3 separate regions of the Homo sapiens genome follow, and all the other regions are linked to region 2. Evidence: fine-mapped expression QTL. A gene starts in region 2. Each other region holds a variant in brackets. All regions are shown on one strand. Distances are from middle to middle. Region 1 has its middle 19 kb from the start of CD27. Region 2 holds the start of GAPDH (glyceraldehyde-3-phosphate dehydrogenase). Region 3 overlaps CD27-AS1 (CD27 antisense RNA 1).

Evidence for each region.
Region 1: its variant is fine-mapped to the expression of GAPDH in whole blood (TOPMed, PIP above 0.99).
Region 3: its variant is fine-mapped to the expression of GAPDH in whole blood (INTERVAL, PIP above 0.99).

What each region holds. Positions count from the first base shown.
Region 1 is chr12:6,421,985-6,430,161 of GRCh38, reverse strand. No RefSeq gene overlaps it. Among named protein-coding and RNA genes, the nearest start is that of CD27, 19 kb to the left of the region's middle. RefSeq lists enhancers at 2,945-3,184, 3,225-3,334, 6,646-6,695. The variant C/G (reference allele first, on the strand shown) is at 4,379.
Region 2 is chr12:6,529,808-6,537,984 of GRCh38, reverse strand. It overlaps GAPDH (glyceraldehyde-3-phosphate dehydrogenase), which reads right to left and starts at 3,468. Exons shown (of 9, transcript NM_002046.7): 1 at 3,416-3,468; 2 at 3,124-3,175; 3 at 1,392-1,491; 4 at 1,195-1,301; 5 at 975-1,065; 6 at 769-884; 7 at 595-676; 8 at 1-401. The coding sequence starts at 3,152. It overlaps NCAPD2 (non-SMC condensin I complex subunit D2), which reads right to left. Exons shown (of 32, transcript NM_014865.4): 29 at 8,027-8,177; 30 at 7,168-7,294; 31 at 6,909-7,064; 32 at 6,030-6,658. The coding sequence ends at 6,573. It overlaps GAPDH-DT (GAPDH divergent transcript), which reads left to right and starts at 3,578. Exons shown (of 2, transcript XR_002957397.2): 1 at 3,578-4,521; 2 at 4,842-6,069. RefSeq lists enhancers at 593-1,366, 2,915-3,688, 3,689-4,462, 4,463-5,236, 5,197-5,326 and silencers at 3,177-3,316, 4,037-4,286.
Region 3 is chr12:6,432,896-6,441,072 of GRCh38, reverse strand. CD27-AS1 (CD27 antisense RNA 1) reads left to right here. Exons shown (of 6, transcript NR_015382.2): 6 at 1,397-2,072. It also overlaps the pseudogene SRP14P1. Among named protein-coding and RNA genes, the nearest start is that of CD27, 8.0 kb to the left of the region's middle. RefSeq lists an enhancer at 6,165-6,665. The variant C/T (reference allele first, on the strand shown) is at 4,362.

The sequences.
Region 1 (8,177 bases), 110 kb after region 2:
CAAACTGCACTGACCTCCAGCCCAAACTGAAGGGATCCCTGGTGCCTGTTGACTTTTACTGAGATGAAATGAATCATTTTAATAATTTAAAAATGTACAATTCAGTGGCTAGACTTTTACTGAGATAAAATGAATCATTTTCATCATTTAAAAATGTGCAATTCAGTGCTTTTACTATATTCACAAAGATGTGCAAATATCACAGATACATTTCTATTTTTGAAAAAGTTATAACTACCCTAGTTGGTGTGAAGTGGTATCTTATTGTGGTTTTGATTTGTATTTCACTAAGACTAATGATGTTGAGAATCTTCTTATGTGCTCATCGCCATTTGTATATTTTCTTTGGAGAAATGTCTGTTCAAGTCCTTTGCCCGTGTTTAAATTAAATTATTTGTGTCTTTTGTTGCTGAGTTGCAAGAGTTTTTTTTTTTTTCTTTTTGATATTATGAATTCTAGACCTTACTAGATAAGTGATTTGAAAATATTTTCTCTGGCCCGGGGCGGGGGCTCACACCTGTAATTCCAGCACTTTGGGAGGCCGAGGCGGGCAGATCACGAGGTCAGGAGATCGAGACCATCCTGGCTAACACAGTGAAACCCCGTCTCTACTAAAAATTAAAAAAAAAAAAAAAAAAAATTTAGCCAGGCGTTGTGGCGGGCGCCTGTAGTCCCAGCTACTCGGGAGGCTGAGGCAGGAGCATGGTGTGGAACCCGGGAGGCAGAGTTTGCAGTGAGCCGAGATCGCACAACTGAACTCCAGCCTGGGCGATAGAGCGAGACTCCGTCTCAGAAAAAAAAAAAAAAAAATTTATCCCATACTGTGGGTTGTCTTTTTACCTTCTTAATAGTGCCCTTTGATGCATAAAAATTTCACATTTTGGGCCGGGCATGGTGGCTCATGCCTGTAATCCCAGCACTTTGGGAGGCCAAGGCGGGCGGATCACGAAGTCAGGAGATGGAGACCAGCCTGGCCAATATGCTGAAACCCCGTCTCTTAAAAATACAAAAAATTAGCCGGGCGTGGTGGCGGGCGCCTGTAGTCCCAGCTACTCGGGAGGCTGAGGCAGGAGAATGGCGTGAACCCAGGAGGCGGAGCTTGCAGTGAGCAGAGATCACGCCACTGCACTCCAGCCTGGGAGACAGAGCGAGACTCCGTCTCAAAAAAAAAAAAAAAAGTTTCACATTTTGATGAAGTCCAGTTTATCTACTGTTTCTTTTGTTGCCTGTGCTTTTGGCATCATATTTGAGAAACTGTTGCCGAATCCAAACTCATACAGATTTTCACTTATATTTCCCTCTAAGAGTTTTATAGTTTTAACTCTTAAATTTAGTTCTTTGATTTATTTTGAGTTAAATTTTTTATCTGGTTTTAGGTAGGGGTCCAACTTCATTCTTTTACTTGTGGATATGCAGTTGTCCTAGCACTGCTTCTTGAAAAGACTATTCTTTTCACACAGAATGGTCTTGGCACCCTTGCTGAAATTAATTGACAATAGATGTATGGGTTGATTTCTGGACTCTAAATTGTATTCCATTGATCTGTATGTCTGTCTTTAGGTCAATACCATGGTTTTGATTACTGTAGCTTTATAGTAAGTTTCGAAATTGGGACTTCAACTTCGTTCTTCTTTTTCAAAATTATTTTGGCTACTCTGTGTCCCTTGCATTTGCATGTGAATTTTAAGATCAGCTTGTCCATTTATGCAAAAAAGAAGGCAGTTAGAATTTCGATGGGGATTGCATAGAGTCTGTAGATGAAATTGGGAAATATTGTTACCTTCAGTCCATGAACACAGATGTCTTTCCATTTATTTAGGATTTCTTTAATGTCTTTCAACAATGTTTTCTAGTTTTCAGTGTATGAGTCTTGCACTTTCTTTGTTAAATGTATACCAAGTTTTTTTTTTTTTTTCTCGAGACAGAGTCTCACTCTGTTGTCCAGGCTGGAGTGCAGCGGCCCAATCTCAGCTCACTGCAGCCTCTGCTTCCCAGGTTCAAGCGATTCTGCAGCCTCAGCCTCCCGAGTAGCTGGGATTATAGGTGCCTGCCACCACGCCTGGCTAATTTTTTGTATTTTTAGTAGAGACAGGGTTTTATCATGTCGGCCAGTCTGGTCTCGAACTCTTGACCTCAGGTGATCCGCCTGCCTTGGCCTCCCAAAATGTGGGAATTACAGATGTGAGCCACCGCACCTGGCCAATGTATGCCTAAGTATTTATTCTTTTTGATGCTATTGTAAATTGAGTTGTTTTTCCTAATTTCATTTTTTTTTTTTTTTGAGATGGAGTTTCGCTCTTGTTGCCCAGGCTGGAGTGCAATGGCGCAGTCTCGGCTCATTGCAATCTCCACCTCCTGGGTTCAAGTGATTCTCCTGCCTCAGCCTCCTGAATAGCTGGGATTACAGGCATGCGCCACACATGCCCAGCTAATTTTGTGTTTTTAGTAGAGACTGGGTTTTACCATCATGGTTAGGCTGGTCTCAAACTCCTGACCTCAGGTGATCCCGCCTGCCTCGGCCTCCCAAAGTGCTAGGATTACAAGCATGAGCCACTGTGCCCGGCCCCTAATTTCAATTTCATTTTCTTTCTTTCTTTTTTTCTTCTTCTTTTTTTTTTTTTAGACAGTGTCTCGCTCTGTCACCCAGACTGAGTGGGGAGTGCAGTGGTGCAACCTCGGCTCACTGCAGCCTGCACTTCCCGGGTTCAAGTGATCCTCCCACTTCAGCCTCCCGAGTAGCTGGGACTACAGGTGCATGCCATCATGCCTGTCTACTTTTTGTATTTTTTTGAAGACATGTGGTTTTGCCATGTTGCCCAGGCTGGTCTGGAACTCCTGGGCTCAAGTGATCCACCCGCCTTGGACTCTCAAAATGATTACAGGTGTGAGCCACTGCGCCCAGCCCCGAATTTCATTTTCAAGTTGCTCTTTGCCCATGTAGCAGTTGACATTTGAAGAAGGCAGTTGTTTTCTCCAGAGTTGGAAGGTGGCACCTTGAGGTGTAGGCGTGTTGCTATGACACCCTGTGGGCCGTTGCTGGGGCTCTCTTGTGACTTTTCTGAAGTCACGGATGGAGAGTTTGACTCTGTGACACAAAGGGAAACATGTCTGACTAATCTTTCCCACACTCCCTTTGCCTCTGATGGCTCCCTCGGCTAGGAGAGGAGAGGAAGAGAGTGGGTTGGTGGGGCCTCACCCTTTATTACAGGTGCTTCCTCTGACCCTTCTCTTCTGCAGGATTTTTGGGGCAGCTACTGAAGGGACAGGCACTCCCAAAGGGCAAGGGCTGTGGCAGCCTTCTCTTTTACCCATAAGTTGGCCAGAATTGATGCTGTCTACTTGTTTTTTTTGTTTGTTTGTTTTGTTTTGTTTTTTGGGAGATGGAGCCTCCCTCTGTCACCCAGGCTGGAGTTCTCTCACCCAGGCTGGAGTGCAGTGGCGCGATCTTGGCTCACTGCAACTTCTGCCTCAGCCTTGGGTTCGGGTTCAAACAATTCTCATGCCTCAGCCTCCCAAGTAGCTGGGACCCCAGGCACACACCATCATCCCTGCTTAATTGTTTTGTATTTTTAGTAGAGATGGGGTTTCGCCGTGTTGGCCAGGCTGGTCTTGAACTCCTGGTCTCAAGTTATCTGCCCACCTCGGTCTTTCATTGTGCTAGGATTACAGGTGTGAGCCACCGCACCCGGCCTGATGCTCCCTACTTTGATGTGCATAGAGGAATGTTGCAGGCCACAGGCATAGGCAGGGTCCTGGTGGCTGGTGATGTCAGAGAAGCCTGGGGGGGAAGTCCAAGGATCAATCAGCTGGTGAAAATCTGAAGGAGCGGAGGATGATTCGAGTAAATCTGTGCTGCTTGGCCTGCGTCCAAGGCCGTCTCTCTGCTCAGTCACTTGCTGGCTGCCCAGTTGCTCAGGCTCCGTGGGTTTGTTTCCACTGTCACATGGGGATGCAGATGCTGGCCTCGGAGGGCGGGTGTGAGCAGCCATGTTTGGTAACTCGGGTGAATGCCCTGCTAGGACTTGATGCAGAAGAGGTGCCAGTCAGTGTTCACTGGAGTATGACTTGATCACCAGCAACTTCCTTCTTGACTGGGATAGGGCAACATGAGAGCTGAGAGTTCCTTAAGTGGGGCCGTGCTCAGAATGGAAGGGAAAGAGTGAAGAAATCTACTAGGAAGAGGTGTATGGGAGGCGTATGCGACAAATCTCACCTTTATGAGAGCTCAGCTAGTCAGTGGGAGCTTTAGGTTGAACGGTGTGGGTGCTTCTAGGGCTGAGGAGACCCCATCATATTTTCACGCCAAAGGAATGGGGTGGGCCGGATGGGGAGAGCTGCAAGAAGCAGGATGTTGCAAGTTTGTGTGGTTTGTTTGTTT[C/G]TTTTGTTTTGTGAGACAGGGTCTGGCTCTGTTGCCCAGGCTAGAGTGTAGTGGTGTGATCACGGCTCACTGTAGCCTCGAACTCCTCGCCTCAAGCAGTCCTCCCACCTCAGCCTCCCGAGTAGCTGGAACTACAGGCGCACGCCATGAAGCCCAGCTAGTTTTTGCATTTTTACTAGGGACAGGGTTTCACCAGGTTGTCCAGGCTGGTCTTGAACTCCTGGGCTCAAAGCGATCTGCCCGCCTCAGTCTTCCAAAGTGCTAGGATTACAGGCATGAGCCACCATGCCCGGCAATTATACATTTTAAATATTAATATAATAATGAGGCTAATCTATAATACTTCTATGTCAAATTGTTTAAAATTTTTTTAATTTTTTTTTCTGTAGTTTCATGCATTTCCTATTTAAGTATTAATATATGTCAGATTCTTTTAAGCATTACAAAAACTTTAAGTACCAAATGCATGCAGTGGTTAAAACCTGTTTGAAACTTAGCATGAGTTTGATTTGCTTCATCACTTTTGATTTTTATCAGTTAAGGTTTGACCAGAGAGTCAAAACCACTATGAGTGTTATGGAATAAGGAACTTATTTTAGAGATTAGACCTTAATCAATCATGGCAGCTGGGGAAGGAGTCTTTGGAGGCCTCCGTATCTGTGGTGGACCTGAGGTCACTATGGGTCAGTTGGGAGAAGCACTGGATGTGAAGTGGGGGCAGGGCAAAGGCCATCCGGAGCCTGCGTCTGTGCCTCACCACCACCCACCCCGATGGTATGGGTGTCTGCAGAAGGACCTAGCACTCCTTGCCACGGAGTTGCACTTGTGTGGCCAAGAATTAGAGAAGCTGAAGGAGGCGATCTGACGGGAGCTGGAAGAGCTGCCAGTCTGGCTGCCATCCGTGCAGACAAGGTGAGCCAGCAGATGACTGTCACCCCATGCTGGCCTCAGAGCACGACGGCCGCTCCTATTCTGTTTTCCTACCTCTCAAATCTTACATTTCTCTTGTGGCCAACCCTCACCCAGAACCATACAGGGATTAATTTCCAAGAAATATGGTTTCGTCTTAGCTAAGTTGAGAGGGTAAAAGCCATCATAAAGATTGATTCCAAACCTTCTTGGGGTTAAAAGAACACTCGTCCCCAAGGGGAACGGTTTTACTCAAGTGGGCAGTGTATGACCGTGATCTGTGATTACCGTCTCAGGAAGGCTAACCTTATTTATTTGCCAGATTTGAGGCTAGGAAGCCAGACTTGGGCCTGCGTACATCTATATAGTTCTCAGTTTAGTACAATGTTCCCTTAAATGTTTCAAACTACATTATAAATTTAATAGTTCTGAGTTTGTCTAAGTCTATACCCTTTTTAAAAATTAAAAAAATTTTTTCGCATTGACAACTAATCAAAAGAAGAGTCCATATGCTTCTGATGGGTTTAGATTTGCAACCTGCCTCCTGGGTCCAAATCGTACCCCCACTAGAGTATCTGGAAGTCTGGAATCTCCACCCTCAAGCTGCAGCCCTTCTTGGTGCCTCTTCCTTTTGGCCTGGCTACTGGATCCTTTCCTTATTCTTTCTGTCCGAGTAGGTCACCACTCCATAGCCATATGCATACCTCTGCAGGGCTCTGCTCACAACCCTGAAGTCATGCTCATGCCTGTGAGCACTGGACAGGATCCTGCACGGCCTCAGGAGGAACTCCAGGGAGTGGAGAACAGAAGCGCATGCCACGTTCACGCAGGGTCAGGATCTTACCCATCCAGGGCAGAGATTTTCCCCAGGGAGGAGGGATTACAGGTGCATATGCTGGCACCTGTAATCCCAGCTACTCAGGGTCACCTCTACGGGAGGGACTGAAGCCAGCAAGAACCATACACAAACTCTGTCCTAAAAGGAGCTGGTGAAGTCCCCTGGGGAAGGGGTAGAAGGGCCTTGGGGCCAGTTGCATAACTGGGACCTTCAAGCTGTGGCTCCCTGCCCAAGGAGCCTCTGCTATCCAGTCATGCGCTTGATTCCAATGGAGGCAGGAAGCGCGTCGTCCCATCTGTCTGGGCTTTGGGTGCCCTCTTGTGGCAGAATAGTGATTTCGCTCTTCACACTGTCTCACGTGGCCCTCTCAGGAGCCCAATTAGGGCTTCAAGGCTGTTATTTTGAAGATACGTTTATCGCAGCACTGTTTACAAGAGCAGGGATATGGAATCAACCTAGGGGCCCACCAATGGATGATTGTATAAAGAAAATGTGGCATATTTATACCATGGAATACTACTCAGCCATTAAAAAGAATGAAATTACATCTTTTGCAGCAATGTGGATGGAACCCTTAGAGGCCATTACCTTAAGTGAAATAATTCAGAGACAGAGTCAAATACTGCATGTTCTCATTTATAAGTGGGAGCTAAATAATGTGTGCACATGGACACAGAGAGTGCAATAGTAGACATTGGAGATTTGGAAAGGTGGGAGGGTGGGAGGTGGGTGAGGGATGAGAAATTTCCCAATGGGTACAATGTACACTATTCGGATCGTGGTTATACTAAAAGCCCAGACTCCACCACTACTCAATATATCCATGTAACAAAACTGCACTGTACTCCCTACATCTATAAAAAGAAAACAAAATGGGATTCTAACAGAAAAAAAAGGGACATAAGGGCAGAGGTGCCAGGCGTCGGGTATCCTCCCAGGGCTTCTCTTGTGTCAGCACAGCAGGCTGGGTTTCAGCAAGTTCAAAGAATTTGAGGAACCCCCTAAGGGAGGGCCACTGGTGGGGGCAGAGGGGTGATCCCAAGTACTCCTATCTGTGACTTGAAGAATCTATCTTTAACATAACCTAAAAGAATATACCAAAGGCTGGGCGTGGTGGCTCACGCCTGTAATCCCAATACTTTGGGAGGCTGAGGCTGGCGGATCACGAGGTCAAGAGATTGAGACCATCCTAGCCAACATGGTGAAACCCCATCTTTACTAAAAATACAAAAATTAGCTGGGCATGGTGGCAAGTGCCTATAGTCCCAGCTACTCGGGAGGCTGAGGCAGGAGAATCGCTTGAACCCGGAAGGCAGAGGTTGCAGTGAGCCGAGATTGCAGCACTGCACTCCAGCTTGGGTGATAGAGCGAGACTCCATCTCAAATAAAAAAAAAAAGAAAGAAAGAAAAAAAGAATGCACCAAAGTATGACCTGATCTTGTTTTCTTTTTAAAATTAAAATAGGGGCCGGGTGCGGTGGCTCACACCTGTAATCCCAGCACTTTGGGAGGCCGAGGCATGCGGATCACGAGGTCAGGAGATCGAGACCATCCTGGTCAACATGGTGAAACCTGTCTCTACTAAAAATACAAAAATTAGCTGGATGCGTTGGCACGTGCCTGTAATCCCAGCTACTTGGCAGGCTGAGGCAGGAGAATCGCTTAAACCCGGGAGGCAGAGGTTGCAGTGAGCTGAGATCATGGCATTGCACTCCAGCATGGGCAACAGAGCAAGAATCTGTCTCAAAATAAATAAATAAATAAATAAATAAAATTAAAAAATTAAAATAGGGACAGAGTCTTGCTATGTTGCCCATGCTGGTTCCAACTCCCCTGGCCTCAAGCAATCTTCCCACTTCAGCCTCCCAAAGTTCTAGGGTTACATGAGTGAGCCACCACGCCTGGTTATGATCTGAACATAAAAGCTCCTGTGGCTGGGTGCGGTGGCTCACGCCTGTATTCCCAGCACTTTGGGAGGCCAAGGTGAGTGGATTACCTGAGGTCAGGAGTTCAAGACCAGTCTGGCCAACATGGTGAAATCTTGTCTCTATTA
Region 2 (8,177 bases):
TTGACAAAGTGGTCGTTGAGGGCAATGCCAGCCCCAGCGTCAAAGGTGGAGGAGTGGGTGTCGCTGTTGAAGTCAGAGGAGACCACCTGGTGCTCAGTGTAGCCCAGGATGCCCTTGAGGGGGCCCTCCGACGCCTGCTTCACCACCTTCTTGATGTCATCATATTTGGCAGGTTTTTCTAGACGGCAGGTCAGGTCCACCACTGACACGTTGGCAGTGGGGACACGGAAGGCCATGCCAGTGAGCTTCCCGTTCAGCTCAGGGATGACCTTGCCCACAGCCTTGGCAGCGCCAGTAGAGGCAGGGATGATGTTCTGGAGAGCCCCGCGGCCATCACGCCACAGTTTCCCGGAGGGGCCATCCACAGTCTTCTGGGTGGCAGTGATGGCATGGACTGTGGTCTGCAAAAGGAGTGAGGCCCTGCAGCGTACTCCCCACATCACCCCTCTACCTCCCTCCCCACCTTGAAAGGAAATTATGGGAAAGCCAGTCCCCAGAACCCCCAACCCCAGGGTTGCACGCAGCCCCGGCAGGGAGGAGCCAGTCTTGGATGAGAAAGGTGGGAGCCTCAGTCCCATTCCCCAGCTCTCATACCATGAGTCCTTCCACGATACCAAAGTTGTCATGGATGACCTTGGCCAGGGGTGCTAAGCAGTTGGTGGTGCAGGAGGCATTGCTGCAAAGAAAGAGGGAGCGGGGCGCAAGTCAGGGGAGCGTGTCCATAGGGTGCCAGGCTGGCCGCTTCTCCACGGGCCCTGCCTTCCTCACCTGATGATCTTGAGGCTGTTGTCATACTTCTCATGGTTCACACCCATGACGAACATGGGGGCATCAGCAGAGGGGGCAGAGATGATGACCCTTTTGGCTCCCCCCTGCAAATGAGCCTACAGCAGAGAAGCAGACAGTTATGAACCCGGGTCCTGCCTTTGCAGGGCTGAGTCAGCTTCCCCTCCCGCGGGCCCTCCTGCACTCACCCCAGCCTTCTCCATGGTGGTGAAGACGCCAGTGGACTCCACGACGTACTCAGCGCCAGCATCGCCCCACTTGATTTTGGAGGGATCTCGCCTATGGGGGTGGGGGGGAGATGGGGACAGGACCATATTGAGGGACACAAGGTTACCATATACCCAAGGGAGCCACACCATCCTAGTTGCCTCCCCAAAGCACATTTCTTCCATTCTGTCTTCCACTCACTCCTGGAAGATGGTGATGGGATTTCCATTGATGACAAGCTTCCCGTTCTCAGCCTTGACGGTGCCATGGAATTTGCCATGGGTGGAATCATATTGGAACATGTAAACCTGGGGGAATACGTGAGGGTATGAAGGGGCTGCCCATCAGCCAGGTGGCTCCTCCCACACCAGCTTTGGGGCTCACCATGTAGCACTCACCATGTAGTTGAGGTCAATGAAGGGGTCATTGATGGCAACAATATCCACTTTACCAGAGTTAAAAGCAGCCCTGGTGACCAGGCGCCCAATACGACCAAATCTAAGAGACAAGAGGCAAGAAGGCATGAGGAGGGGAGGCTCCTCCAGAATATGTGAGCAGCCCTAGGCCACCTCCCCATTAAGAGGGCGAATGCAGCATCTCCTTACCCCCAGGAGGGCCCAAGAGGTTGAATTTTATCTCCCTTGAGCTTCCCTGCCAGGCTGGCCTGGCTTAAGGCATGGCTGCAACTGAAGGCTCCAGGGCTGCCCAACACCCCCAGTCATACGAAGCCCTTCCAGGAGAAGCGGCCATGTGGGGCACTGCCACCCACAGTCTGGGCACAAGCTTTGTACATGGTATTCACCACCCCACTATGCCACCCCAGGAATGCTTGCTGCTGCCTAGCTCAGCTGCACCCTTTAGGGAGAAAACGCTTGTACACTCAGCATCATCAAACTCAAAGGGCAGGAGTAAAGGTCAGAAATTAACTGGACAGGGCAAGCCCACCCCTTCTCTAAGTCCCTCCTACAAAAGGGACAGAGACTGGGGCGGGTGGGAAGAGGGGAAGCTGTATTTTAACCCCCTAGTCCCAGGGCTTTGATTTGCCAAGTTGCCTGTCCTTCCTAGCTCTTTTCCAGAAATCAGGAGTGGGAGCACAGGTAAGTGCATGTGTGTGGGGAGAAGGGATGGGAGAGAGCCCCAGCCCAGGCCCCCAGCTACAGAAAGGTCAGCAGCTATATTTAACCTCAGACCAGGGTGCGGTGGGAGATCTGGTTTCCGGAAGACGGAATGGGGAGAAGGGCAGGTTCCCCGAGGCGCCCAGACACCCAATCCTCCCGGTGACATTTACAGCCTGGCCTTTGGGGTCGGGTCAACGCTAGGCTGGCAGGGGAAGGGCGGGGCCGTGAGGTGAGCCGGCGCTGCAGGAAGGGGCCACCACCAGAGGGGCCATTTTGCGGTGGAAATGTCCTTTTCCAACTACCCATGACTCAGCTTCTCCCGGCTTGGCACCATGCCACAGCCACCACACCTCTGCGGGGAGGGGACACAAGAGGACCTCCATAAACCCACTTCTTTGATTTACCAGAGAATAATCTAGGAAAAGCATCACCCGGAGGAGAAATCGGGCCAGCTAGCCTCGCTCCACCTGACTTCCCCGCCACACGCGACTCCACCCATCGAGGCAGGAGCGCAGGGTTAGTCACCGGCAGGCTTTCCTAACGGCTGCCCATTCATTTCCTTCCCGGTTGCAACATGGCGGCCGCTCTACCGCAGGCGCAGCATCCGGACAGGGATGCACCCGCTGCGCACTAGCATCCCGGGGCCTGCGGTGCCGGAGGCCGTGGGGGAGGGGCTCCTCTGCGACACGTGACCCCGCAGAGCGCGAAAGGAAAGAAAGCGTCCCCCACCTAGGGGTCCGGGTCGGGATCTCGGGCGGGAGTAGGGACCTCCTGTTTCTGGGGACTAGGGGAAGGAGGCTCCGGGCAGATGGCGCCGCAAGGGCGGAGCTGCACAGGGCGCCACAGCCTGGGTGCGGGGCTCCGCCAGGTCCGAGCGCTGACCTTGAGCTCTCCTTGCGGGGAACAGCTACCCTGCCCCCATACGACTGCAAAGACCCGGAGCCCGCAAGGCTCGTAGACGCGGTTCGGGGGCGGTCGCAGCCCAGGGCCCCCCAGCCACCCGCGAACTCACCCGTTGACTCCGACCTTCACCTTCCCCATGGTGTCTGAGCGATGTGGCTCGGCTGCGCGGAGGGAGAGAACAGTGAGCGCCTAGTGGCCCCGGCCGACACACACGCCTCCCCTCCCCTCCCCCACCAGGCCTCCATGCCCAGCCCGCGCCGCATCACGTCCTCCGCCCGCCCCTGCAATGCGGAGGCCGCCCGGGCCCACCCCGCAGCGGCGCGAACACATCCGGCCTGCGCCCGCCCCTGCCGCCTTCAGGCCGTCCCTAGCCTCCCGGGTTTCTCTCCGCCCGTCTTCACCTGGCGACGCAAAAGAAGATGCGGCTGACTGTCGAACAGGAGGAGCAGAGAGCGAAGCGGGAGGCTGCGGGCTCAATTTATAGAAACCGGGGGCGCGGCGGCAGGCGGTGACTCGGACCCCGCCTCCCGCCAGGCTCAGCCAGTCCCAGCCCAAGGTCTTGAGGCCTGAGCTACGTGCGCCCGTAAAACCGCTAGTAGCCGGGCCCTACTTTCTCCCCGCTTTTTTTTTTCCGCAGCCGCCTGGTTCAACTGGGCACGCACCGAGCGTGTGGGCCCCGACGTAGGGGGGAAGGGACTGAGATTGGCCCGATGGGAGGTGATCGGTGCTGGTTCCCAGGACTGGACTGTGGGCAGCAGGACACTAGGGAGTCAAGGACGGGGACCCTTACACGCTTGGATGAAACAGGAGGACTTTGGGAACGACTGAGATGGGGAATTGGAGCCGGAGCCCAGCACCGCTCGCGGCTGCACGCGGCCTGCCCCCTCCCCTTTCTTTCTTTCAAAGGCTGAGAGGCGGGAAAGTTGGGGAACTTCTCCTCGAGGCTCTGCGGTAGTGACACCGGACTGCTCAGGCAAAGGCCTAGGAGGGGCCCATGGGCCTCGGGCGGGGGCCCGTGGTTCCTTCCCAGCCCCCACTTCCCCCTCCCCATCTCCTGGCTCCTGGCATCTCTGGGACCGAGGCCTGGGCTGGGCACTGGGCACTGGGCACTGGGGGCCTGGAGAGGAAGGAGGCTCGGGAGGCGGCTTGAGGGGGAGGGGGAGGTTTCTGCACGGAAGGTCACGATGTCCTGCAGCCCTGTAGCCTGGACCTGATAATTAGGGCAGACAATCCCGGCCCTGTGTGCACCAGCGGCTCTCTCCGGGCTGGGGCCCCAGGCGGAGGACAGGATGGCTGGTGGGGGCCCAGAGGCCTCCCACAAAGGCACTCCTGGAAACCTGTGGGCTGTGCTGCCTAGGGAGAGAGACAGTGTGCCTTTCATTCCATCCAGCCTGGGGCGAAGAGCGGGACGTGAGGGCGGAAGTCCCTCCCCGCCCTGGGACGTGCAGGCGAGCCAGGAGCCAGGGACTCCCTTTCACTGGCTGCGCCGGGGGATATTGAGGGCAGGGTGAGTCAAGAAGAGGGAAAAAGTGGGAAAAGAGGTCTTGGGCACACGGTGGGAACAGGTCCCCTGCCCCCTCCCACAGGGGATCCATTCTTCTGGTAGGAGGGCAGAGGGCCAGGTTTGTGAGTGTGGGATGGGAGGGTGCTGAACACTTGTAAGGAAGGGGGTGGGGTGGGGTGGCCTTGGCCCATCAGCAGGTGCATGGGAGGGGGATCCCGGGCCTCTTTGCTGGCCCAGCATAACCTGACACCAGCCCCCTGCCCTTCTAGCTAAAAGCCGGTTGCTAAGTTTAGCCTGCCTGGTGATAATCTTTGCTTAAAAAGCACCCACAGGACTCCAGTCCCTGACCCTGCCTTTCTGGGATTGCCTTTCCTGCTGGGACCCAGAGCCAGGCTGTGTCCTCGTCTGGCTGCCACTGGCATGGTTGGTGCGGGCTTTTCACAATGACCACCCAGAGCAGAGTAGCAAGAGCAAGGCAAGAAGGTCCCTAATGGTGAAAGGGGTGGGGTGGGGGAGTGGAGGAAGCCCCACCTCTGACTCAGCTATTCCTGCAACCAGGACCGTTAACCCTTTCTCATTGAGAGCATTAAGAGCACCTCCATGCTCCTGCACCACCCAAGCGTGATCTTCCCCTCTGCCTCATGCTTGTCATTTTTCATTACTGTCTTCTCCCCGCAAAGAGGGAGCTCAGTGCCCAGGGAGCACTACTGACGTAGTGTGCTGTTGTCATGACAGCAGAGGCACCAGTGTGGTCACGACAGCCAGCTCACAGCCTCCGGTTCGAAGGTGACTCAGCAGAGAAGACTTGAGGAGCTGGAGAGGGGTGCGCAGGCTTCAGGGGGCAGCCCGCCTGCAGCATAGCTCACGCCCTCTGCAGACCCGGGAACAATGAGGAATGCTGGGAGACAGGTCTTGTCTCCTGCAGAGCTGGAGGGGATCATGATCTGAACTTCCACGAGCCTGGGCCGGTCTGCTGCCAACCTTTGGAGATGGGATTAGGGAACACGAGTGGGGGTGGGGTGAGGCACACGGCAGAAAGCAACCCTTGGTCTAGAGCAGGTTTTCTCAACTGTGACGCTATTGACATTGTGGGCCGTGTGATTCTTTGTTGAGGGGCCATCCTGTGCACTGCAGGATGTTGAGCCACATCCCTGGCCTCTTCCCACAAATGCTGGTAGCATTCTTCCCCTATAGGCTATGACAACAAAACAGGCCCCAGGTGTTGTCAGATGTCCTCTGGCAGACAAAATTGCCCCCGGTTCAGAAGCACTGATCTGGAGCCTAGGCACTGCATAATTCTCCCCAGAGAGGCTGTCTGGTCACTGTGCAGGGTCCAGAGGTTGAGAGGGGAAAGGTGGCAGTGACGGGGCAGGAAGCTCATCTGCCATCCCGGGACAGGCCCTAGGACTCTGGGCTCACTCATCTCTCTCTGCACTGATAACCCTCTCTCTGCTGCATGAAACTGGGCTAATGTGAAAGATGAAACAAAGACAAGCTTAGGAAAAAATGTCTAAAAGTATATAAAAACATTTATTCATTAGAAAACAAGGAGATTGGCAAACATATATTCCAAAGTTGAAGCAGCTCAACGCAGTTCAGTTAGGCTAATTTAAGAGAAAGCCTTGCATTTTAAAGAGCGTGTAGGCATTTTTTTTTTAATTTGAGATGGAGGTTCGCTATTGTTGCCCAAGCTGGAGTGCAATGGTGTGATTTCGGCTCACTACAACCTCCGCCTCTGGGTTCAGGCGATTCTCCTGCCTCAGCCTCTTGAGTAGCTGGGATTACAGGCGCACGCCAATACGCCCGGCTAATTTTTTATTTTTAGTAGAGATGGGGTTTCTCCATGTTGGTCAGGCTGGTCTCGAACTCCCTACCTCAGGTTATCCACCCGCCTTGGTATCGCAAAGTGCTGGGATTACAGGCGTGAGCCACAGTGCCCGGCCTTTTTTTTTTTTAAAAAAAAGAGACAGACAAATATTTTACAAGGGAAACAGAATTCGAATTCCAGGTCACCCTACAGGATACCCTGCACAGGGAGGACAGGAACAGACTTCCTAGGATCTGTGCCTGCGAGCCGATGCTCTGAGAATGGGAGTTGTTTTCTTGGGTGTCTCGTCTTCTGTCATCTCTGCTGAAAGATCTATGCAAAGAATTAAAGGAATAAGAAAAAGCTGAGTCACAAAGATGGTGAAAAAATAGATATCAGAGAACAAGTGAGACAATCCCACACCGCACAGAAGAAATAAAATCCAAGCTGTACAGGAGAGGCCCTTCTGCGGCAGTGGGGCAGAGCATCTACACTCAGGCCCCCGCAGCAGGTCCTATGGAAACCAGCCCTCTGCACCCTAGCTGTGTGCCTTCTCGGCCGGGAACAGGCGGGAGCATCATACCTTCCTCACTGGACTCATCACTTGAGAAGACAACTTTGGGTTTCTTTTTGGAAGCTCGCTGCTGGGTGTTTGGATGCCGACGGGTAGTACGGCGGGGCTCTGGTGTGACAAAGTCATTGTCTGAGGCTGTAGAAGCCAGAGGCTGGTACCTAGAACCTAGAAAAGGCAGGAAAACGTGATTTAAAAAAGAAGAAGAAACAAATCACTGCAGGAGGGGAGGGCCCAGTCTGGTCTCGCCCGCACAGGCTGCCTTACGTACCAGTGGATGGTTTCTTGGCTGATGGCGCTCTCTGGCTACCTGCTTGGCCAATCTCAAGCTCCTTGATTCCATCCAAACCTCTGGTATGACAGGCCCGAAGCTTCTGCTCAAATTCATCTATTATAGCCTGGAGGGAGAAAAGGAGATTCAGAGCAGGCCTGAAAACAGTTACTTCTGATTAAAAAGAAACAAGGCCATGGAAGACATGGAGGCCTTAAACGCACATTACTAAGAAGCCAAGGTGAGAAGGCTCCATACCGGATCATTCCAATGATACATTCTGGAAAAGACAAAGTGATGGCAACAGTAAAAAGATCAGGGGTTGTGGGGAGAGAGGGATAAATAGGTGGAGTGCAGGGGATTTGTAAGGCAGTGAAACTCTTCTGTATGATACTGCAATGGTGGGTACATGTCATTACGTGCAGTGAACTCCAAGGTAAACCATGACTTTAGGAGATGATGTGTAAGTGTAGGTTCAGCTGTAACAAATGTGCCACCCTGGTGCAGGATGTTGAAGGTGGGGAAGGCTGTGATGTGTAGGGGCAAGGGGTAGAAGGGAACTCCCTGTACTTTCTGCTCAATTTTGCTTTGAACCTAAAACTGCTCTGAAAAATAAAAACTATTAAAAACAAACAAACAAGAATTGGATGAGATGCTGCTTTGGTTGTGTTTTTGGAGTAATAAAAAAAGAACTGGAGACAAAGATCTGGTCTTAGGTCACTCTGGCAATTTGGTTGCAACCCAGCTGGGGATAAGGAGGACGGGAAGGTGACTGCAAGAGCCGTATGCTGCCCAGGGCCGGCAGATGTCTTAGCCAGCCCAGAACCCAACAGGCATTGAAGTGTCCTGTGCTGCTCACCTTGCCCTCAGGCTTGGCCCCACGTCGCAGCTTGCCTACAACTGACAAAAAAGCACTGAAGATGGACTCATCTGACAGTTTGTCTCCAAAACAGTCAAAATTGTCAAGCATCTTACGGAGGCCTCGCTCTGTGAGGGGCAGCTGTGACACA
Region 3 (8,177 bases), 97 kb after region 2:
AGACAAATGTAAAATTGGCCAGGTGAGGCGGCTCACACCTGGAATCCCAGTCACGTTGGGAGGCCGAGGCGGAAGGATTGCTTGAGCCTAGGAGTTTAAGACCAGCCTGGGCAACAGAGTGACACCCCGTCTCTACACATAATAAAAATAAATTAACTGGGTGTGGTGGCACGTGCCTGTGGTCCCAGCCACTCGGAAGGCTGAGGTGGGAGGATCACTTGAGCCCAGGGGGTCGAGGTTGCAGTGAGCCATGATCATGCCAGTGCACTCAAGCCTGGGAGATAGAGCAAGACCTCATCTCACAAAACCCAAAAAACAAAACAAAATTAAAATTAGTTAGTAATGGTCATTATTGCTATGAAGGAGAGAGTTGGGGTGCAATATAGGTGTCTATACCCCTAATAGGGGGATTTAAGGGGTAGGGAGTGCCTCATCCAGGAAGCAAAGTTTAACAGAGATATGTGGGATCTGGCAGCTCTCCACCTACATGAGAATTATTACTTCCCTTGGTTTCTGTGACACGATTCTATTTTCCTTGCTTTGACCACTTGTTTTTTAAGTGCTATTTTTTATTTTTTTATATACAGATTATATACAATAGGGATAATCTGTTCCTTGAAAGCCTGGTAGAACTTGATTTGCTTGTGTGTAGCTGTTTCACTGTTATTATTATTATTTTTTTTAGGCTGTCTTGCTCTGTTGCCCAGGCTGGAGTGCAGTGGCATGATCTTGGCTCACTGCAACCTCCTCCTCCTGAGGTCAAGTGATTCTCCTGCCTCAGCCTCCTTAGTAGCTGGGATTACAGGTGTGCGCCACCACACCTGGCTAATTTTTGTATTGTTAGTAGAGACGTGGTTTCACCATGTTGGTCAGGCTTGTCTCGAACTCTTGAGCTCAAGTGATCCACCTACCTTGGCCTCTCAAAGTGCTGGGATTACAGATGTGAGCCACTGCACCCGGCATACTTTGCCATTCTTTTTCTAATGTATTGGATGCTTAATTAATTTAGAAATTTCTTATTTTCTAATATATGCATTTAAGGCTATAAACTTCCCTTGAAGATCTACTTTAGCTACATCTCATCAGCTTTGCTATATTGTTTTTTTCATTATTGTTGATTTGCTTTTCCCGTTATTATTTATTTTTACCTATATTTCATTTATAAATGCATTACAAATTTTCCAGATCTGTGGGGCTTAACTTTTTGTTGTTTATTATTTTAATTTTAAATTTATTGTGGCCCGAGCACTCTGTCTGTGTAGCATGGCAGGCAGCACGTTGGTCCCCCGAGGACATCTGCGCCCCTGAACTGCATGTTAATATGGCAAAGGGGAGTTAAGGCTGCAGATGGAATCAAGGTTGGCCTTGCAATGGGTGATTATTCTGCATTATCCAGGTAGACCCAGTGTAATCACAAGCATCCTTGTAAGTGGCAAAGAGGCAGAGGAGACAGCGCCAGAGAGGCAGCTGCATGAGAAGGATCAAGATGTTGCTGACTTTGAAGTTGGAAGAAGAAGGCCATGAGCCTCAGTATGTGGGCGGCTTCTAGAAGCTGGAAGGGGCAAGGAGATGGATTTGACCCTTCAGCCTCCAGGGGCAGCTGTACCTGCCATCACTGATTGTAGCCTGGTGAGGCCTGTTTTAGACTTCTGACCTGTAGAGCTGTAACATAATACATTTGGGTTGTTTTCAACCACTAAGTTTGTGGTAATTTGTTGTAGCAGCTGTAGAAAATGAATACATATGAATCCTCTGGCATTTGTTTGAGATTTGCTCTATGGCCTAGTATGTGGTTGTAAATGTTCCATCTGTGCCTGAAAAAATGTATATTTCTAATTCAGTAGTCTCTGCTTTTTTTTTTTATTTTGTACCCCATCAATAAAATGATTTTCAGCATGTATCCCCAAATAAACAATATTTTATTTATTGATTGATTGATAAACAGACATGTTTAATGATAGCTTGCTTTTCACAGAGGTGACTTCGGAGACTTCTAATCTATAATCCAGGAGTATATAACCATGCAGCACAGACCAATTAGTCACATGTAAAATAAACTAGATTCTTACCACAACTACCCTGTAAACATGGCAACTATTCTTTCCAAGAGGACCCTAATCTTATGTGAAAACACCTACTGTGGGGGAACCAGAAACCTAGCTATGTGGCCAAAAGTAAAAACCAAAGGAAAAAATAGCAATTCAGTGGTTAATTGGTGAAAGCAGGGAATTTGTGCCCTTTACTGTGCTGCTGCTTTGGTCTTTTTCCTTTTGCTCTTTTTGTCCCTCTTCTCAGCCCGTCCATGTTAGCTCTCAGTAGGTTTGAATAAGCCATCTGAAACTTACTCACTTCCTTGGAGTTCACCACAGTGCTCATCTTCTTTTTCCCATCGATAGCTCTTAACAGACACTTGTTGTCTGAGGGCTCAAAGCCCTCCACAGAACCTTTCTTTGGAATGGGTTTGGTTCGACCATCATACTTCTTCAAGGTGATATAGACGCTGCCCAACGTCCGGCACTTCTGGTAGAGTCTGGTCAGCTCCGTCAGGAATTGCTTGCTCTCCAACGACATCACTGCGGCGACGCTGGCTCGACTCCCCACAATATTTTAAATAAATTAATCATATATTATATACTCAAATAGGTTCTATGTAAGTATATGTAGACATTCTAAAGTTCTAAAGGATGAGATCGAATTACATAGTCACATACAGAAACATAAAAAGGATGAGATTGGCTAGATGCAGTGGCTCATGCCTGTAATCCCAGCACTTTGGGAAGCTGAGGTGGGAGGATCGATGAGCTCAGGAGTTTGAGACCAGTGTGGGCAACAACAACAAAATAATAAAAGTAAAATAAAAACAATGAGATAAGGATAGGAAAAACAATTTTTAAAGATATCACATTTACTTATTTGCAACATAAAAGATCTAGTTGCTCTCATTAAAATATTAATAGGTAACAAAATTTTCCACAATATAATAAAACATTAACAGTAATATATTTAGTAAGAGCAATATGATTTAATGTGTTTTGTTATTAAAAAACTTTCCTCAACACTTTATATAGATTGATCTGAGTCTAAGCACAAATATTTGATTTTTATGACTGACTTAGATGAAAAAGTTTCTCTAGGTCAGACTGTTTCAGGTGTGTTTTCTAATTTTGAATCAAAAGTGCATCTTCAAGCCCATCACAGTGGCTCACACCATAATCTCAGCACTTGGGGAGGCTGAGGCAGGAGGATGGCTTGAGGCCAGGAGTTTGAGACCAGCCTGGGCAACACAGTGAGACCCCACTGTACTCCAGTGCCGGTGACGGAGTGTGACCCCATCTCCATTAAAGAGAGAGAGAGAGGGAAAGAAAGTGCATATTCAACAGGCTTTTTCTGTGGGCCACCTTGGTGGTTGGGTTGAGTACATGTCCCTTCAGTGTTTTTGCAGTTGCTTTTGTCAGACGCCCCAGGGATGTCACTGGCTTGAGACCAGTTTTCATGTTCTTTTCTTGGGGATAAAGGAGGTTTCCCAACCACGTGGGTAATATAAATTTTACCCCCATACCTGGCCGAGCACAGACCTATAGTTATGTTTTTGTTGTTGTTGTTGTTTTTTTTTTGAGACGGAGTCTCGCTCTGTCACCCAGGCTGGAGTGCAGTGGCGCGATCTCGGCTCACTGCAAGCTCCGCCTCCTGGGTTCAGGCCATTCTCTCGCCTCAGCCTCCCAAGTAGATGGGACTACAGGCGCCCGCCACCACGCCCGGCTAATATTTTTGTATTTTTAGTAGAGACAGGGTTTCACCGTGTTCATCAGGATGGTCTCAATCTCCTGACCTCGTGATCCGCCTGCCTCGGCCTCCCAAAGTGCTGGGATTATAGGCGTGAGCCACCATGCCCAGCCTCTTTTTTTGTTTGTTTGTTTGTTTGAGACAGGGTCTCCCTCTGTTGCCTAGGTTGGAGTGCAGTGGCAACACAGCTCAATACAGCCTCAATCTCCTGGGCTCAAGCAATCCTCTTGCCTCAGCCTCTCGAGTAGCTGGGACCACACCTGGCTAATTTTTTTTTTTATTTGTTATCTTTTTGTAGAGACAAAGTCTTGCTATGTAGCCCAGGCTGGCCTTAAATTCCTGGGCTCAAGCAATCCTCCCACCTTTGCCTCCCGAAGTGCTGGGATTACAAGGCGTGAGCCTGGTCACACTTTCTTTTTTGGGACTTGTCACACTTGTGATTTTACGTGATCTGTGATTTATAGGATTAATTTTGATCTGAGGTAAAGCTAATTTCTGAAATCAGATATTATGTAAATTGTTAGGTGTAAGGTTTGAGTGCTGACTACTGAGGTTTTCTGACTCTCAGTCTATGTAGC[C/T]AGGGAAGGGCAAGACCTATAAAAGGAATTTCTCAGATACCAGGCAAGGGGAGAAACAGTGAGGGAAAGATGTCGCTATGAAGGGAGCAGTCTTGACCTGGAACTGAAGGGTGGTTCCAGGGCCCAAACCCACTGAGACAGGAGGATCCTGGGATAGGTGGAGAGAGCTTGACTTTCACAACCAGACAGGTTGGTGGTCCAAATGCCTCTCTGCCGGCTACTACCCGCATCATGTCCAGCATGTCCCACAACCTCTTGACTGAGTCCTCATCTGCTTGAGGATAGTGTCGTGCACTTTGCAGCATGTTGGGACAATTAAGGGTAACAATAGAAATGAAATGTCTGGTCTTGTCTTGTTTGGGTACTCAATAAATATTCATTCCTCCTCTCTCTTCCTTGGTATTTGAGGCTGCAAGTCCCAAGAAATGGGGTTGAGGGAACAGCTAGTTAACCTGGGAACGAAACCAAAGGAGTGTGAAAGAGACAGAACGACTCACTAAATTGAACAAGCTGTGCATAGGCGATATGTCTGCTCTGTATGTATTATTCATACTCGGTTCTTCATCACGCAGAATCATGATTTCACAAGGCGACGGGACGTTTCCTCTCACAGTAGGCTCCTGGGCCCCTGGCATTTTTTTTCTTTCTTTTTTTGAGATGGAGTCTCACTCTGTCACCGAGGCTGGAGTGCAGTGGCAAGATCTTGGCTCACTGCAACCTCCACCTCCCAGGTTCAAGCAATTCTCCTGTCTCAGCCTCCCAAGTAGCTGGGATCACAGGCATGCGCTACCACTCCTGGCTAATTTTTGTATTCTTAGTAGAGACGGGGTTTCACCATGTTGACCAGGCTGGTCTGAACTCCTGACCTCAGGTGATCCACCCGCCTTGGCCTCCCAAAGTGCTAGGATTAGAGGCGTAAGCCACTGTGCCCAACTGCCCCTGGCATTTTCTACTCGCTTTTTTTTTTTTTTTTTGAAACAGGGTCTTGCTCTGTCACCCAGGCTGGAGTGCAGTGGCACCATCTCGGCTCACTGTAGCCTCGACCTTCTGAACTCAAGCAATCCTCCTGCTTCAGCCCCCCAAAATATCTGTGACTATAGGCATGCGCCACCAAGCCCAGATAATTAATTAATTTATTTTTTTTGAGATGGAGTTCCGCTCTTGCTGCCTAGGCTGGAGTGCAATGGCGCGATCTCTGCTCACTGCAACCTCTCCCTCCTGGGTTCAAGCGATTCTCCCGCCTCAGCCTCCAGAGTAGCTAGGATTACAGGCATGCGCCACCACGCCCAGCTAATTTTGTATTTTTAGTAGAGACAGGGTTTCTCCATGTTGTTCAGGCTGGTCTCAAACTCCCGATGTCAGGTGATCCGCCAGCCTTGGCCTCCCAAAGTGCTGGGATTACAAGCGTGAGCCACCGTGCCCTGCAAGCCCAGCTAATTTTTGTATTTTTTGTAGAGATGGAGTTTCACCATGTTCCCCAGGCTGGTCTCGAACTCTTGAGCTCAAGTGATCTGCCCACCTTTGCCTCCTAAAATGCTGGGATTACAGGTGTGAGCCACCGTGCTGGGTGGCTGGGCCATTCTTGCTCTTCTGAGTGACTTCCCTTGCTCACCAGATGAGGGAAATGGCTCATGGAGCCAGTCTGGTGATCCTCCCTGTGGCGGGGAGGGAGGCACGCCCCACTTTCCCCAGCTGTTTCTGAGCCTCATGACTGTGAGCCCTGAGAGGGACCTAAGACCTTTGTTTCCCCTGCTAGTCCGTGGTGCGGTGTCTGAGCCTGAGCTCTTAGGGCAGCTTCCTTCCTAGGGCCGTGCTGGAGCCTGCTAGTACTGCCTAGCCAAAGCCCGATCCTTACATTTTCAGGAATTTTGTGAGGTTACTCGTTGGTAGCTTGAAATTGGCCAGCTGGCCATAGTAGGAATACTTACAACCACATACATCAGCAAACGCCATAGATCAAGGGCTTCCCACTCCGAGAGCTGGCTGTTAACCACCGCACCACCACTACTGACTTACTGGGGTGAGGCCCAGTCATTACTTTTAGTCATTTTTTGGGTCTTGGAGAGACAGAGTTCTTTCCTATCTGGGCTCCTGTCCCCTCCTCCTGGCTTCTAGGTAGAAGGTCCTGTGGGCCTATGGGGAGCCCCCATCTTACTGCTCCAGCCAGCTTAGGATTTCAAGCCAGCAGGGCTGGAAAATGATTCCAACCTTCGGCTTTACCCTCTCACTCTACAGCTATCAGAACCGTGGGGTGCAGAGGTGAAATGACTTTCCCTGTGTGGCAGAGCTGGGAGAGAACCCAGGTCTCCTGAACCCCAGTCTACTGTTGACGAGCCCCTACAGAGTGGACGCCTCAAAGGTGCTCATTTCCTGTGCCGATCTGACTGTGTACTCACAGTACCTTCCATGCTCAGCCTGCAGGCATGGCTCAGCCGCCCTTCCTGCCTGTCTTCTTCTGGTCTCATAGACCGTTCCCTGCCCTTTCACTCTATGAGCCCATCCCAACTGCTTTCTCTTCTTTTTTAAAATTGAAATTTAATTATAAAAGCAATATTCATATCACCTCCTTATAAAAAATTAAACCAGCAAAATCCATCATTTTCATCAGTAGGTAAATGCACTAAGAGTGCTTGTACCTGTGCCCCAGGAGACATATGCAAAAATATTCAAGCACTACTGTTTGTAATTCCAAAAGAAAAAGCAAGCAAGCAAGCAAGCTGCTGTGGTGTCTCACACCTGTAATCCCAGCACTTTGAGAGATGGAGGCGGGCAGATGGCTTGAGCCCAGGAGTTTGAGACCAGCTTGGGCTACACGGCAAACCCCCATCTCTACTAAAAATACAAAAATTAGCCGGGCGTGGTGGCACATGCCTGTAGTCCCAGCTACTCTGGAGGCTGAGGCATAAGAATAGCTTGAACCTGAGAGGCGGAGGTTGCAATGAGCCGAGATCGCGCCACTGCAAAAGAAAGGAAGAAAAGAAAGGAGAAGGGAGGAAGGGAGGAAGGAAGGAAGGAAGGAAGGAAAAAGAAAGAGAAAGAAAGAAAGAAAGGAAGAAAGAAAGAAAGAGAAAGAAAGAAAGGAGGAAAAGAAGGGAGGGAAGGAGGGAGGAAGGAAGGAGAGAACGGTAGTTGGATAATAAATTGTTGTATATTCACCCAATGGAATGCTTTAGAGGAATGAATATGAACCACCTGCATGTAGCCATGTAGATTAATTTGCATGAATGTCAAAAATATAATATTGTACATCGTGAATGTACTTCATGCCCCCTGAATTATACATTTAAAAATAGTTTAAATGGTAAATTTTATGTATATTTTACCACAATATAAATAAATAAATAGATAGAAAAACATGTTAAGTGATAGTGCACAAACACACAGAAGCAAGGCATAGAAAAGTACATACGATTCCATTTATAAAGTTCAAAAACAGGCAAAATGAAGCAGTTTGCTGTTCAGGGTGCACACAGATGGTAGAACTAGAAAGGAAAGTGAGGAAGTGATAGACACAAGCCAGAGCTGCTTCCCCCGGTGAGGAGGGAAGGTGTGATCAGGGCGCTTCGAAGGTTCTACTAATCTTCTGATCTGAACGTGGGTTTTCAATGTGTTATTTTTATGTACTATTTTACATATCTTAGTTCACAATAAAAAGTACAAATTATATTTTAAAAATTGGAGGTGAAAATGAAAAAAAATGGAAAATTATAGAGAAGACTCAGGTTCCCTTTGATCAATCTCCTCCCCCAATCCCTGGTCCTCTCCCTACCTCCTTAGTGTAGGCACTGTTTTCAGATTATTGAGTATTCTTCCAGA